2 separate regions of the Homo sapiens genome follow, and region 1 is linked to region 2. Evidence: fine-mapped expression QTL. A gene starts in region 2. The other region holds a variant in brackets. All regions are shown on one strand. Distances are from middle to middle. Region 1 has its middle 15 kb from the start of SMIM12. Region 2 holds the start of GJA4 (gap junction protein alpha 4).

The links.
Region 1: its variant is fine-mapped to the expression of GJA4 in iPS cells (HipSci, PIP 0.95).

The regions. Positions count from the first base shown.
Region 1 is chr1:34,840,157-34,848,375 of GRCh38, reverse strand. No RefSeq gene overlaps it. Among named protein-coding and RNA genes, the nearest start is that of SMIM12, 15 kb to the left of the region's middle. RefSeq lists enhancers at 485-1,170, 5,294-5,981. The variant C/T (reference allele first, on the strand shown) is at 4,721.
Region 2 is chr1:34,789,557-34,797,950 of GRCh38, reverse strand. GJA4 (gap junction protein alpha 4) reads right to left here and starts at 4,952. Exons shown (of 2, transcript NM_002060.3): 1 at 4,883-4,952; 2 at 2,204-3,754. The coding sequence starts at 3,737. The coding sequence ends at 2,736. RefSeq lists a silencer at 3,535-3,689 and an enhancer at 5,394-5,894.

The DNA.
Region 1 (8,219 bases), 51 kb before region 2:
AATGATCATTGTCAATAAATGTTGAATGAATTAAGAGGTCCTGGAGTGTGATTCTGGGATGGAGCAGGTACTGGGGCTGGGTGTGGGGACAGGTCTCTTAGAAGGATAGGGAGCAGGGCCGCCAGGTGTGTGCTTTGAGGTGCCTGGCAGCTTAGAGCTAATGGCAGCTGTGTTTTGCTACAGCGTTACCTTCCCCAAGGCTGGTAATGGGATGAACCAAAAGAAACTACTGACTTATTTTTCTAGGGGACTGGGGCTTGGGCAGAAGGCTGCATTTTCCTCCTGGGTAGGACCTGGATCAGGATAGCCCATGATGAATTTGACCCTGATGACTCTATAGTGGGGAACAATGTCCTCAGGAAAGCATTCAGGAAACCCTTCGTGTAGTAGTGATCAAAGCTCTGGAGCAGCTCAGCAGGATGGATGGGAAAACTCCAAGGAATCCAGCAAGGCCCAGGGATCCTCTTAATGCACTTACCAGGTGGAGCTCTCCAGCAGCCTCTCGGCAGACCCTTGGACCAACCCTTTGGTTTGAGGAATCCTGGGAAGGGGTGAGAATGGCTTCCTGGAGATCCTGTGGGAGCCACTGCTTCTGGAGTGTCTCTGTTTTATCTCCATTTTCCCCTTCATGCCTTCCCTCTAGCCACATGCCTGAGAGGGTGGGGTGGGCTGGTAGGTGAAGCCTGTAAGCATTGAAAATAGAGATGGGGAAGGCTCTGGTTTCCCCACCTCCTCAAGAAGCAGACTATAAGCCTTCTTGTATTTATATGAAACCCTCTTTCCACTTGTCTGTCATTCCCAAGGAGTTCAAATAAAAGAGAGAAAATCACTGATTCTTCTTCTGCCCCTCGAGTGGGAAATGGCTCCCCCAAGATAATGGGATTCTTAGCAGAGCTGGCCCTGTGGCGGCCCCATGCCCCCTCCCTTTCCCAGCTTGCACCTTGTCATCATGCCAAACCAAGGTCAGCTTCTGGCCTGCAGTTTGCTTGAGTTGACGATGAGGGGAAACCCTCTTGGGTGCCTGCCGGCCGTAGGGCATAGCCACAGCCCCTCTGGCTGGTGGCTCATGTGACTTACCTCTGATGAAGGTTGCAGCCTGCTTTTCCTGCCCCCTCCCAGTTTTGTTTGCCCAGCACACAGACTAAAGAATAACTCCTGGGGTACCTCTGCCCCTTTGATCCTCTCCAAGCTGTTTTCCCCACGTGCGGGAGGGTAGGAGGTCACAGTCTTTCCCACAGATGCGAGTCCTGTGTGTTTATAATTTGGTTGATTGATGACAAGGTGGATTGTTCAGCTGCTATTGTCCCTAAAGCCCTGTCCTTGGCTGGCTCTCACCTCACTGATATATGCTGGGGCCTTGATGGGCTCAGACCCCACCCCACCCCACCTCCCACCCTGCAATCTGCTCTCCTCAAGAAGCTCAGCTCTGGAGCTAGACTGCTCCCATTCAAAGCCCAGCACTGCCTCTTACAGCTGCAGTCCTTTGGCAAGCTTCTTCTCAGTGTCTTCTGTGTCAAATGGGGCTAATGTATGACTTACGGGGTTATTGCAAGGATTCAAGGAAAACACACCAAAGCATCTGGAACAGTGGCTCACATATAGTTAGCACTAGGAAAAGTTGGTTGTTGTGATTAGAAGTATTTTTTCCATTCTATGCATTTAGCCACACTTTAGGACCCTGATTTCTCTCTGGGCTCTAAGAGAGGGTGCCTGAGTGTAGTGGGGAAACTGAGGCCTACAGTAGCCCTGTGGCCGACAGCTGGGGAACCATGAGGGTACCCTGATCCTCAGCCCAGAGGCCTGTTGGCTGTGCTGTTTGTTGCTTCTCTGCCCCTGTCTCACTGTCCCTGCTCTGAGTCCCCAGGCCTTTCCTGGACTGCCTTGGTGTCTTGTAGCAATCCCAACCTGCACACAGCCTTGGTTGGCTCACTGATTGGCCTTCAGGCAGTTAGAGATTTCTGGAGGAGGCTGGAGAAGCTGAGGGTTGACTAAGGGTGGTGCTGAGCTGAGGGGACCCTGCCCGGGCTACTGGGGCTCTTGGGAGTGTGTTGGAGGGGGTCCCCCAGACTCTTGTTCATGACCCCCAGACAGGGGAAGTGTCTTAGTTTGTCAGGGCTGCCATAATGAAACACCACAGAGTGGCTCACCGACCTCAGAGACTTATTTTCTCACAGTTCTGGAGGCTGGAAGTCCAAGATCAAGGTGCCAACTTGATTGGGTTTTCCTGAGGCCTCTCTCTCTGGCTTGCAGGTGGGCACCCTTTTGCTGCCTGTTTACATGGGTATCTCTCTGTGCCTGTGCACTCCTGGTGTATCCAAATTTCCTCTTAAAAAGACACCATCAGGTTAGATTAGGGCCCACCCTAATGGCCACATTTTAACTTAATCTTATCTTTAAAAGCCTATCTCCAAATACAGTCATATTATGAAGAAATATGAAGTTTAGGACTTCAACATATGAATCTTGTGGGGACACATTTCAGCAGTAACAGAAAGACAGACGGCAGCAGCATGAAGCGGGCCGCTGCCGCCGGGGAAACCTCTGCACGGGAGAGCGGCTACAGCCAAAGCCTTTAATGGGGAGGCGCTCAGCCTACCCTGGGGAGAGGCTGGTGTTGGGTCCTCGTCCCTCTCTCCCACAAGAGGCCCTAGAGTGAGAACTAAATGCCTGAGGCCGGAAGGCTCTGTGAGCTGATTATCCCTGTGGTCTCTGGGGTGAAGGAACAGTCAGCAGGCCCCAGGCACTGTCCTGTCCTTCCCCTGCCTTATCAGAGCCTCGACTCCCTTCCGCCTCTAGGCTGTGACCCAGGCTCTCCCCATGAGCAGTGACTTTGAAGGGGGTAACATCGCCACCTTTGTTTTAGCTGAGCTCTGCAGCTCTCCATGTACCCCACCTGGCAGGGAGTGGTTTAGAAATAGCACCGAGAGTTCAAACATCACTTCTATTATTTTTTCCAGGAGATTTACTTGTCTGACTGAGTTGGTTTAGGCTGATATTCTAGTAAAGACTTTCCTCTCTGAGTGCCATGTGTTTTCTGATAAAAGCTGAGGGCGGGTAGGGAAGTGGCTCAGAAACTTTCTGGAAGTCAGAATTGGCCACAGATGACAAGTAAGTGCTTTGCCTGGCCCTGGAGCCCACCTCCCCATCAGTCTTTCACGCAGCCCCATTAGGTGGGCTAGAGATCATCTCAGGGTCCTCTGATGGTGCACTGCCCTCCCCCAGCATCCTACATCTCCCTCTGGGGTCAGTAGTTCTGGGTCTTTCACGGCCTCTTGTCCCCCCAGGCCCAGAAGCCAGCATTGGAGGGGCAGGAAGGATGGATGCTTTAGGTCCAGCTGCCTGCTGCCTTCTGCCCAGCCAGGTCCACAGAGTCCTAGGATTGCAGAGGTTCCCTGGCTTCTTGGAAAAGGGCTAGAAGGCAGCCACCCTGCTTTTCCTGTGGACTTCATTAGTCTTGGGAACCCAAGGCAGACAAATCCCAGAAAAGAAGAGAAGGAAAACTGTGCTCACTGAGCTCCTTTAGGCTGAGTGTTGTGCCGGATGCCTCTGATATCTCATTTAATCCTCTCAAGAGCCCTGCAAAGCAGGGGTTGTTTTCTCCATTTTATAGATAGGGAAACTGAGACTCAGGGGCTAAGTAACTGAATCGCACGTTGAGCGAGTGGTTGTGCTGGGAGCGAAGCCTAGGTCTGCAGGCTTTGGAGCTCTGGTCTACTTCCAGTGAAGCTGGCTGTTCCTCCCAGCTTCACTGTGCCCTTGGCCTTTCTTCCCCTTGGACAGTGGAGGGTGGAGGGTGGGAAAGTCAGTGGGGGCTTCCTCCCCTCCTCTTTCCTTTCATCTCCAGAGACCTCTTTGTTTTCCCTGATTCCTGGACACACTGGGCTCAGGGCTCCTGACTGACTGGGCTGCAGCTCTCAGATCTCCAATGACTAGGAGGGAATGAATGGGTTGTCACCTCTTGACCTGTATCCCCCACCCCCACTACGTCTCCTACCCCAGCAACCACAATGGCCTGAGGCTAATTCAGTGCCGTCATTGTTGACCGTGGAGAACAATGCTCAGAGACAGGCTGCTGGCGGGACTGGGTGCAGCCACCTGCTCCTCTCCAGCACTGTTTCTCCCATGCTAGGAAGTTGGGAGATGACTTTCCATGTGTGAGATATGAGGGTCCTGAGAGGAGGTGTGAGAGGAGGGAGCAAACGGTAATCTCCCCATTCCCCCATATCCAAACCATTTCCCAGTGCCAAGCAAGGCTGTGGGTACTATGGGCTTCCTCTTACTAGGCTGTGGGTCACATGGCTCCCCCCTCACTAGCTGTGAGACCGTGGGCAAAGTCACTTAGCTTCTCTGCGTCCTAGTCTTTAATATAGGGATTTACTACCTCCTTCACCAAGTAATTGAGGGGAAAGCTCTTAGCATAGTGCCTCATTCCATAGAAGACATCAGTTCTCCCTCTTGCCCCTGCTTTCCTGGTAATTGGCAGGTGCGCTTGATCTTTTGGGCCAGCTTGTGCTGGGAGGCAAGGTGCTGTGGGGAGGCACAACCTGGGAGAGCCTTTCCTGAGTCCAGCTGGAGCCAGAGATAAAGGAGGCCTCCCTGCTTCCCCAGCTGTCTTGCTTCGCTTTGCTTTTTGTAACACGGAGGAAGCTGAAGGCATTGTGATTATCGGCTCCGGGAAGATAAACTTGAAGGGTGACTTAATGAGCATTTGTAAACCTAT[C/T]GAAGGTTATCATTCAGGGCAGAGTGACCGGCGGACACGCGGAAATGGGTTTAGTATGCAGCAAAGGTATGTGAGTAGACATGAGAAAGCCTTTCCCAGCAGGAGAAGGCCTGGGAACTTGAAAGGGGGGGTCGGGGGTGAGACTGAGGAAGCCTGTAAAATCTTTAAAAATAGGTCATTTTGTTCTGACTGGGCTTGGGTGGGGTTTGGTTAAGAGGTGAAGGGACAGGTCAGAGACCAGCCAGGAATTCACCCTTGAATCAGAAGTCAGGTGAGACTGGCTGGTGGCATCCTTAGGCAAACAGAGTTGCGTTTTATAGGGGAGCCTGGGCTAGGGGGTAGACAGGGAAACCCTGCCTCTGGACCCACCCCCAGCTTTGACTTGCTGTATTTTCAGAGACAGCACAGGAAGTGGGCCTTCACAATGTCAGGATACAGGAAGCTATCGGACTATTGAAGGCCACTTCCTGTGAGCTGGTCATTCACATACATTTGTCACCGGCTATCAGGCCTTTTGGGCTCTGCCATTGTCTGGAGGGGCTGCAAAAGACTAGGGGCTGCCAGCAGAGGCTTTTGGACACAGAATACACTATTGTGCTGAACTGGCAGCACCCCATGGTGTGGGGAGGAAAGTGGTGGGTAAGAAAGGGGACGCCTGGCTCTCATTGTCATTGGTTGCACAATGGGGTTGGGGGTTGGGTCCTCTCCTGCTCATGGGAGCCTGAACTTCTGGGAGATGAGATGGCTACACAGAAGCCTGGCTTTAGGCATGATACCGGAGTGAGCTGGAAAGGAGGTCCATCACTTTATTAGCAGTGATGGGCTTTCTAGATCTCTGCCATTGGCCAGTGTGACATAGCATGGGCTTGGAGTCAGGCAGACCTAGATTTCGAAGTCATACCTCACTGCTATCAATGGTGCAACTTTGCGCATATACCACCCTACCCCTCTGAGCTTTAGTCCTGCTCCTGTGAAGTGAGGACAGTAAGAACTGACTCATAGGGATGATCATTGCTTGAAATAATCTGTTGAAGTCTTTAGCTTGATACTTGGCACTTATTAGATGTCTAAGAAATATGAGTTCCTTCTCCATCCTCATCTCCTTCCCTTCTAGTTCACTTCTGACCCTACTGCCTGGTCTGCCAGTGAGCAAGTGAATTAGTGAGTGCAGGGGTATGAAGAGATATTTTAATATCAGCCCAAACAAAGCATTACTTCTGCCTTTTTTTTAATGCCAAGACGATCAAATAGACCGTTAATTATCTGCACTAATGGATGGCACAGTCACAGATCATTTTTTCTGGCCATGTGCCTTTGGCCTTATGTGTGAATCTGGGTGTGTCTGATTTCTGGAAGTTCACATCAATGCAGTTGTAACAGGGCAGACCTGCTCTGGAGGAGATGAGTTAGAGAACTGTCTAGCAGCCCATGAATTTGACCTGCTCAACTCTGAGACCCACCGGTGCCAGGAAGAGGCCACTCTCTTTCTCAGCTGTCTGATAGGTGGAAAACCATGGACTTTGGAGGCAGACACTTGGGTTCAGATCTTGACTCTGGCCCTAACTAATGGTGTGACAGGGAAAGTTATTTGACTTCTTTGAGTCTCTGTCTCTTTACTTATAATCTGAGCTTAATCATATTTACTTTGCAGGTCTCTGTGAAGATAAAATAAGGTAATGCACATGCTCCTCACCTAGTCACGTTTTCCTTCCATTTCTTTCCCTTCTCCTCTTTTCTCTGTCACTCAGCCCTACCCTGAGCAGAGATCCCTTTCTAATCATTGCTGGTGTACAGATATAGTTAAGTGTTTGGACTTGAGGATCCTACTGCCCTACAGCACAGGAGAACCAGGCCTCTGTTCATTGTGGTAGCCATTAGCCACATGTGACTATTTAAAGTAAAATGAACAAAAATGAAAAATTAGCTCCTCACTAGCCACACGTGGCTAGTGGCTATTGTATTAGACAGTGGGGACAGACATTTCTATCATTGCAGAATGTCCTATTGGATAGTGCTGAGTGAGAGGGTGTGATATAACCATGGAACCTGATAAGCAGAAGGAAATAAATTAATGAGGAAAAAGGATTTGGTTGGCTGAGAACTGAGTAAAATAGTATCCCTCTACTATTTGAAGCGTCCATGGGGTTTGGACTCTTGATGTTGGTTCTCTTCTTCCATTGGTAGAGTTAATCCAGTGCACACTTGGTCTAACACTCAAATGCCAGGAACCTCTGGGGCTGGACTGAGAAAGCTGCCCAAGCAGGCCCTGTGCTCCACGGATGGGTCATGGCCAGGCCTTACTGACTAACAGAGTTTGCCTTGTGTTCTATGGCCCCTATACAGGTGTGAATTGTGACGGCTTAGGCCCAGGGAAGCCACAACTGCCCTAGGACTCTTTATACCAATACCTGCCACTCTAGACTCTTCCCTTTGTCTCCCATCCTTGTCACAGAAACCATAGACAATCATATGGCCTTGCCCTGATGTCAATGACAGACTCATCCCCCAAGCATAGATTGTAGTTGTGGCATGTGGCTCGTAGTCTCTCCCTCCTCTGCTGCAGGCACCGATCCTACCACTCTTAACCAGGCTGCTCCCTGAGCCTTCGTGGGCTGCTGGGCTCTGGAATTATTAGCTTTGTTGCCAACAGCCTGGTGTGCATGAGTCCTGGGCACCCCTGGACCAAAGCCATCCAACCTCAGCTGCATATTCCCAGTTTATACAGTTTATCAGCCCTGCTTTGCTTCCTGACACTCTGACTAGCCTTGTCAGCATCCCCCTCTGCTCCCCTTGGAGGAATGGGGCTGGGTGTCTGTACTCCTAAGCTCTGGACTGGGCTCCTGCTCTGAACATGTCTGTTTCCTGAAACCCCAATTCTGAAATCTGTCTGCTCTGCACATCAAACTGGCCTCAAGATACCAGCATTGGGCTGGATCTTGTATTTGGAGTAACTCACCCTCCCTGCCCACGTCCCAGCTTCCTGTCCTTTCCCATCAGCTGTACCAACAGTGGAGGCTCAGCAAGCCTGGCACCTGAGGCCATGGCTGTTGGACAGGTCTAGGAAGGCCCTGTAGGCTGGCCTACCATGGGGGGGTTCCCAGACGTCACAGCAATTAGAGTTCATAGGAGCTTGGCAGGTGCCAAGGTTAGGAGCCTATCTGGGATCACGTGTGAGGCCAAGTTTTCCCCAAACTTGGGAGGGATCAGGGTCTGTAGCCCAGAGTATGTTCTGCTCCCATTGCTCGTTTCAGAGTTGTAGATCTTGAGGCAAAGAAAAGAGAAATGGCCGCACAAGGCCACACTGGGGTGTCTGAGTAGTGATCAACCATCCAGGTTGCTTCTGAAGTCTCCTAGCCCTTTTCATTCAAGCCTGGGGTCACTCTCTTGTTCTCTAGCACAGAATAAGCTGTTCTCTTGTCCCCTATCTGATCTCTTCCTCTTTCCCTCCCTGCCCGTGTGAAGTTGTGTGAGAAAGGTGGTCCACAGGCACCAGGTTTCC
Region 2 (8,394 bases):
CTTAAGCCGTGCAGTCTGTGGTACTTTGGTACAGTAGCCTTGGCAAGGGAATACAGGTGGGATGGGGCTTACAGCCACTCTTCTCTCCATAAAGTCTTCACCATACCCCCAACCCAAATGGTGTGATCCCAGCCCCATGACACTGTCCTCACTCTTAAACCCCCAGCCCATATGTGCTTGTGTTTGTGTGGCCGCCAGTCTAGGACCCAACTTGTCTTGCCAAAGGTCCAAGTTCCTGAGCCCCAGCCTGACCCCGGCTCTGACACCAAGCTCAGAGTGGGTGAGCTTTGAGGGAGGGGAAGGATGCCATTTCTGCTCACTGAAACCTTTCTTCTCCTACCTTTCCAAAGTAGGAAAGGTTGGGGATAACAGAAACACCAAACCAGGGCTCTGAAGCCCCTCAGGTAATGCTGGCTCTAACGCTGGCTTCTAACCTGCAGCCTCTGGCCTCTCACCCTGGCTGGAGGAGAATCTCTTAGACAGGGACCTCAACTTCCAGTGGTCATGGACTTCCAGTATGTGAACAGCCTCCTTTTTGAGGCTTTCAGGATTGAGCCCAGCCTCACTCAATCAAGCAGTGGTTCAGATCCCTGAGAGGTAGAGGTCATTGCCGGAGACTAGCTGGAGAAGTCAGAGAGCGCTTCCTGGAGGAAGAGCCTATGTTAGTCTGGCTGAAAGGTGTGAGCTTAATTTTACTGCATGACTACTGAGCCAGGCACAGTCACATACTTTCACTTATTTGGTTTCCAGTCAGTTGTGAGGCAGGTGATGTTATTTGCATTTTAGAGGTTAGAAAACTGAGACTCAGAGAAGCGAAATGATTGACTCCAGACCACAGCATTTAAATTCAGGGCCCTCTGGTGATAAGCTCATCTCACTCTTCCGCACCAAGCCCTTTTCCAGGGTCCAGTAGTATTTAAAGGATTTGTGGAGTTTCGAAGTGTGGGGGGCAGGGACGCTGCATGCTGACACAGGGGCAGGGTGGGAACATACTGGGTGAATCTGGGAGCCATGAGGAAGCTGGCCTGATCGATTTCAGCGATTCAGAGGGAACAATGGGAACCACAGCTGGAAAAGGAAGAGGGTCGTAATTTATTAGGCTGAGCATTCAGACTCGCTGGGTAAGCAGCGAGTGAGCGAATGAGCTCTGGATGAGGGGTACAGAGCTGGTGTTTTCAACACCCATCCTGATGGGAGAGGGGCCAACTTGCCAACCTGCTGTGAAGGCATTGTGGCTCTCAAGGAGAAGCATGTGGCCACATCAGAGAGACCCCCTTTCCTTCTTCAACCCTAGCCCCAGATGTCCCTGGGAAGGGAGGACAACCAGCTTGCCTCTGAGGGTCACTACCTAGTGCTCTCCCCTACCTGGGTCGCCTCCACATAGGTCAATTCTGCCAGCAGTGGGCCCATCCTCAGCCACGCCTCCTGTATCTAGGTGGCTCATCAGGACCTAAATGCCCCCTCAGCCTGTCAATCCCTCCTCTGACTTTGCACAAACAGTTTTCTCCGCTTGAATGCTCAGTGTTCTCTTTCCCTCCCCAGTGAACTCCTAGTCAAGACCCAGTTCAATTGTTCATTTTGTTTCTGCAGCCTTTGTGGCTCATTGGCAAGATTCAGTCTCTTCCACTTCTGTACATTGCCATTGTCCTCACTGAGGTCTGGGTGCATGGAGAGCAGATATGAAGCAAATCCTTCAGTTGCTTCTCCTGGTGGGCAGACTAGAAAGGGCCAAGGTAGGAAGGACTAGTGACCTAAACCTCCCTTCCCAAATACCAAGGATGAGGATGAGGTGGGATGAGTGCAGGGCCCATCTGAACTGGACTGCGAAGGGCTTGGCTGGCAGGCACGCTTGGAGAGCAAACCATCCAGTAAGGAAGCACTTTGCAGGGGGCAGTGTGGCCAGGGCGACGATGGGCATGGGGGAGGGAGGGCAAGGACGTTTATGCTTTGACCACTGATTAATGCGCTGGAGCAGTGGGGATGAAAAGAAGATAGTGTCTGAGGCATTTCAAAAGGCAGAGCATTTAGAAATCAGGGCTGTTGGAGGCAGAAGGTATGAGTTTGAGGGTTCAAGGTGTTGGCTGGAATCGGGGGTTATAGAGACCAAAGAGATTATACAGGACCAAGAAGTAAAGGAAGCCTGGGCAAAATAACTCTATCCCCCAACCCCCAGCACATCATGATAGCATCAATACACACCTACTTGTGATCAAGTCCTGTTTATTTCAGAAGCTTGAACAGTAGAACTAGGAAGGAGTGATGAAAACAAGGCACCAGTCCCCTTGACAGGGCCAAATCCGGCACAAGCTCTGTCTGTGCGATCAAGGCTGACCCAGCAGCCTCAATCCGCCTTTTCCTGTGAGGAGAGGGTTTGAGGACAACCTGCGCACAGGTGACTGTTCCATAGGGTGAGGTTGGGGTAAGTTGGCTCTGGGTTCCTCTGGATCAGCTGCAAAAGGCCAGAGGGCCCCCAGTACCCTTGGCCAAGAGCATTCCATGCTGACTCTGTCTGTGCTCAGGCAAAGCCACATTCTGGAGAGGAAGCCGTAGTGCCTGGTGGGCACCAGGAAGGCCTCAGGTGTTCAAGAACAACTTGCAATGAGGCTCCATGGCCAGCAAGCACCTGCTTCCCCAGCCCAGTCATCTCTGCAGAGCCTTCCAGGAGGGGGCAGGGGGCATCCCAGGCAGCCAGACTTCTCAGGACCCCTCTGTTGGGTGACATAAGCCACAGGCCTCTATACATACTGCTTCTTAGAAGCAGAGCTGCTGGGACGACTTGGGGGTTTTTGGCCATTCTGAGGGGGTGGGTCCAGGAAGAGAGGGGGCCTGGAAGACGCCAGCCTCTCCTCTGTGGTCAGGTTGGCCCAGTTCTGCTCACTGGATGAGAGCCCATTGTAGGTGGGGCATGGTGGGGATGAGGGCCCCTGGCCCACGGGGAGGTAGAAGAAGACCTGGTCCGTGTAAGGGTCTGAGGAGGTGCCCTGGGTCGGGGGTGCGTCTTGGCCTTGCCGTGCCCTCATCCCCCGGCTGAGGCAGCGACACAGCAGGTGCACCAACTCCAGCAGGTTAAGCACCAGGGAGATGAGTCCAACCACCAACATGAAGATGATGAAGATGGTCTTCTCCGTGGGGCGAGAGACAAAGCAGTCCACGAGGTAGGGGCAGGGTGCTCGCTGGCACACAAACACGGGCTCCATGGTCCAGCCGTACAGGCGCCACTGGCCATAGAGGAAGCCTGCCTCTAGCACACTCTTGCAGAGCACACTGGCGACATAGGTGCCCATCAGTGCTCCGCGGATGCGCAGGCGACCATCTTCTGCCACCGAGATCTTGGCCATCTGACGCTCTACGGCCGCCAGCGCCCGCTCCACCTGTGGGTCCTTGGCCGGCAGTGCCCGCAGCTCCCCCTCCTTCTGCCGCAGCCGCTCTTCTCGCCGAGACAGGTAAATGACATGGCCCAGGTAGACCAGGGTGGGTGTGCTGACGAAGAGGAACTGCAGCACCCAGTAGCGGATGTGGGAGATGGGGAAGGCCTGGTCATAGCAGACGTTGGTGCAGCCTGGCTGGGCCGTGTTACACTCGAAATCTGATTGCTCGTCACCCCACACTGACTCGCCGGCCAGGCCCAGGATGAGGATGCGGAAGATGAAGAGCACCGTCAGCCAGATCTTACCCACCACGGTCGAGTGCTCCTGGACCTGGTCCAGCAACTTCTCCAGGAAGCCCCAGTCACCCATGGCTCCCGGGCCTCCGTCTGCAAGGAGACAGAGCACGTCAGTGTGTCAGCATGGCATCCTTCTCGTTCGCCCAGCAACAAGCCTGCAGGGAGGTCTGCCACGCCCGTTCTACCTACAAAGAAACCCAGGCTCAGGAAGGGGAAGGACTGGCCTGGAGGCTCCCACTCAGCAGTGCAGGCAGGACCCAACCCAGATTTTTGGATGATGGCTGCCCACCTCTTTGTATGGTCTCATTCTGCTTTGGCTAAGGTCCCTGCCTAATCAGACATCTATGTCCCTCTTGTCCCCGAGCCACTGCCCCAGGATGGACACAGGCCAAGGAAATCTGGGTGGAGTTGAGGCTCCTTTGCCTATGGGAACAGAATTTGAGGAACTTATCCAAAGTTGTGCAGCTGGGCTAAGCCCTTCCTCCCTTTTGCCCAAGGCTGGCTACCCCCAGACAGTGGGAGCTAGTGATGATGGTAGAGGTGTTATCTTCTGCTTCTTAGGGGGCTCAAAGCCTCAGGTCCCTGCTCCCCGCCTCATATCTTACCCAGCTGGCTTCACTCTAATCTTTGAGCCTGCAGGGGCTGGGTAGTGGAAGGGGTTTTAGGAGCTGAAGGCAGCATCATCCTTTAGCTCCACCGGTCAGCAATAATGACCACCTGCCACTTGAGGAGGGACATTTGGTCCTGTCTTCTTCCTCCACCTCCACTCCCACCCCCTTCCACCTCCAAAGCTGATGCTGGCAAATTCTAGACTCTTGAAAGGAATTGTCATTGCAGGGTGAGGCACAGGCCACAAAGTTCCCAAGGGGGAGGTGCCTCTTCCCAAGTGCAAAGCTGTTTAGAGCCAGGCTCTGGAAGCGGCCCTGGGTTCAAATCTTGCCTTTTAGTAACTGCGGCCCCTTGGATAAGGAACAACCTCTGGGCCCCTCAGTCTCCTCCACGATAGAGTGGAAACAATAGTATTCCTCCCGCCTCGGGTTGTTACAAGGATTCCATGGAAAGAGGGTGGGAGCCTGGCCAAGGCCACCTGGGTGAGCGCGGCTCTGTCGCGGCGGGCGTTCCGCAGCAACCCCCGTCCCGGCATCGGAGGACCCAAGACTCCTCCCGGCCTCCCGCGAGCAGGTGGCGCCCCTGGTCCCTTCCTAGCCCCCGACTCACCGCCTGCCTGCCGGGCGGCCCAGGTGGAGGTGGGGACGATGGCCGGAGTGACGCCCGCGGGAGCCCTGCTGGACCGCACGAGCGGCGGGGGCGCCTTAAATAGCGCAGAGGGGCGGGGTGGGGGCAGGAAACGCGACGGGGAGGGCGGCGGGCGCTGGAGAGAGGGCGGGGGCGGGGACTGGGAGGTGCAGACTCCCTAAACCCACTCCGGGGAGGTGGGCCTGTGTGATTTGCGGTGGGGAGGGGCAAGAGGGGCTGACCTACCCTTCCTCTCCTCTGTTCTCTCTCCACCAGGTATTCCAGACAGTAAACTCTCCTGTCGTTTCTTTGGCCAGGGAAGGAGAGTTCTCCCAGGCCAGGATCTCTCAGGGTGGCTGGATTTGAAGGGGTTGCAGTAAGGGCTGTGGATCTGGGCAACTGGCCTGCGGGGCTGTGAGGGGTGGGCGGATGGGGATGGAGTGTGGGGACCACTCATTTGCTAGGTGGCTGGCCCTAGTGTGCCAGGATGAGGCGATCAAGGCTAATTACGGCGCGGGAAGCTCCAATGGGGGACAGGGGTTGTAATCCACACCTCCAGCATACATGGTGGAGCAGGCGTCTCTATCCACGCCCAGCCCACGTTCTTCCAGAATTCTCAAACATCCCCATGTCTGGGCAGGCTACACAATCAGAGGCCATTAAGCAATTCCCATGGACTCCTTGAGACTGGGGGTGGGGGAACCACCTGACCTTTAGCTTGGACCCCGTTCTTATGCCTCTAAATGGTGGCTGGGTGGTGTGGGGGACATCCATAGGAATGAAAGGGCTATGCGGAGCCTGCCTTCATGCATTCAGGCATCACAGGTGGATGAGCATCAGTGAGCATCTGCTGTGCTGCAGACGCTGCTTGGGGACCTGGGGATACCCTGAGGAACCAGCCAAACTTGGTCTCTGGCCTCCTCCCTCACTGGCTGGTGCAGGGATTGAGCATATCAGCCCTTGGATAACGGTAAGATAATAAATGTGGAAAGTTCTCCTGAGAGGTACTGGGTGATTCCCAGGGGACTTGGTTAGGAACATTTCCTGGAGGAGAGGAAATGCTTTTCCCCCTCCATTAGCCAAGTGGAAGGGAAGAGCATTCTAGGTAGAGGGGCGGCATGAGTGTGGCTCGAGGGCCTGGAGCTGTGGGGTTCTGAGACTGTGGCCACTGCCCTCGGAGTGCTGAGACGTTGTTGGTGGCTGAGCCCAGGAGCTGAGACTTTGCTGTTGACTCCTGTACCCTTAGGCAAGTTACTCAAATCCCTGTGCCTCAATTTCTTCCTCTACAGAATGAGAATAGTGATAGTATCTACTTTGTGGGGTTGATGGCATACAGTGTGATCAAAGCACATAGTGTAATAGTGGTACATAAAGTTTTTCAAGTGAGTGGTGGCTAAAAACATTGTGATACTGTAACAAAAAGGGTCTGTGGGTTGTTCTTAGAGGGTGGTAGGGGCTGGCGCAGCTGAGGAAAGGGAAGGTGGCAGGGGGCTGTTGAGGCCTGGGGCTGGTGGCACAGAAGTCCCTGTTCCTCCACAGCAAGATTTAGTCCTTGGATTCCCTGGGCCCCAGGGCCGGGTCCCTGAGGGTTCTGTCTTCAGGACCAGCAGGAGGACATCTTTGGGGACACGCAGACCTGAGAACTTCAGGGCTAGCTGCCCTGAGGGATCCGGCTGGGCTGGCTTCCCCTCTAGGCCTCTCCCTCAGGGCCAGGCTGAACTGAGTCTCCTGGATTTCTGAAGCTAACAACTGCCCCACTTAATTCTGACCCTTGAGGGCATGAGAACCGAGGCCCCTGGAGGCTGGTTCTCACCACGCCCCCACTGCAGCCTCTGCTCACTACCGAGTTTTCCTCTCTTGGGGCTGGGCCCAGCTCTCCCAAAGCCTTTCTGATTCAGTATACTGGGAAAGAGGGAAGAGCCAGTGGAGGGCTGGGGAGTGACGTCAAGGCTGCCCTCACCCTGCTCTGACTCCTTCCTCAAGGGCTTTGGAGGTTTGAATAACTCGGCCTCCTCCCCAGAGGATGAAGAAGCTGGGATCAACTAAGACAACAGTTACCACAACCTGGTCATTCCACCTGGAAATGTCCCTGGAACCACATGCTTCCCTGCATTCCCTTTGCCCTGGTCCTGTTCAGGCTGCTGCCACCTCAGTGGCCTCCCAGCTGGTCTCTTGACCTCTAGCCCCACCCTTCCAACTCAGCCTCCACACTTCCCTAGAAATCTGACCAACATCGCCCTGCTGAAAAGTCATCTATGGCTCCCTATCACCTTCTGGGTAAGCCCTAGGCTCCCCAACCTCCAGTCCCTGGCCACTTCTCCAGCCTTACCCCTCACCCTTCTCGCTGTGACCCAACCAGGTCTCACTGATGGGGTTCTCTGTGCGCTCTTGCCTTTGTCCCTGCTGTTCCCTCTGCATGGAGCACCCTCACGTGCTGAACGCTGTGAATCAGGACTTTTCTCAGTTGTTGCCTTCTCCCAGAAGTCCCCTTGCTGGCTCCCTCTGTGCTAGGTGTACCTTTGTGCTTTCAGCAGCTCAGCTACTACCCATGGTGCTTTGTTTTTGTTATTTAAAAATTTTTAATTATGTTAAAAAGCAGCTACCATAAAATGTATCATCTTAAGGATTTTAAGTGTACAGTTCAGTAGTGTTGAGTATATTCACGTTGTTTTGCAACAGATCTCCAGAACTTTGCCATCTTGCAAAACTGAAACTCTGTCTCTAGTAAACCACTCCCCTTTCCCCATTCCTTGGTGCATGGTCTACTTATCTTTATTCCCCTCCTCCATTAGACTGTGAGCCCTTTGAGGGCAGGCAGCTGGGTCTTTATATCTCCACCACCTAGCAGGGCACCAGATCTGTATATAAATTTGTTAATTTAACAAGTATTTAGTTTGGTGCAAAAGTAATTGTGGTTTTTGCTATTAAAAGCAATAGTTACTAAGCACCTCCTATGTGCTGTGATGCCATCCTAGACAGTGGAGATAACCAGGGAACAACAACAAAAAAATCCCTGTCCTCGGAGGTTTTACATTCTAGCAAAATGTAGAACATGTTAGACGGTGATGAATGCTCTGGGGGAAATGAAGTAGGGAGGAGTGAGAGTGCAGGGGTGGCAAGTTTCAGTTTCTTTTGTTTTTTTTTTTTTTTGAGATGGAGTCTTGCTCTGTTGCCCAGGCTGGAGTGCAGTGGTGCGATCTTAACTCACTGCAACCTCCACCTCCCAGGTTCAAGCGATTCTCCTGCCTCAGCCTCTCAAGTAGCTGGGACTACAGGCGCATGCCACCACGCCCAGCTAATTTTTGTATTTTTAGTAGAGACGGGGTTTCACTGTGTTGGCCAGGATGGTCTCGATCTCTTGACCTCATGATCCACCCGCCTCGGCCTCCCAAAGTGCTGGGATTATAAGCGTGAGTCACTGTGGCCGGCCTCAATTTCTAGTAGGAGAGGAGAGAACGCCTCACTAAGCAGCTGACATTTGATGCAAGCCCTGA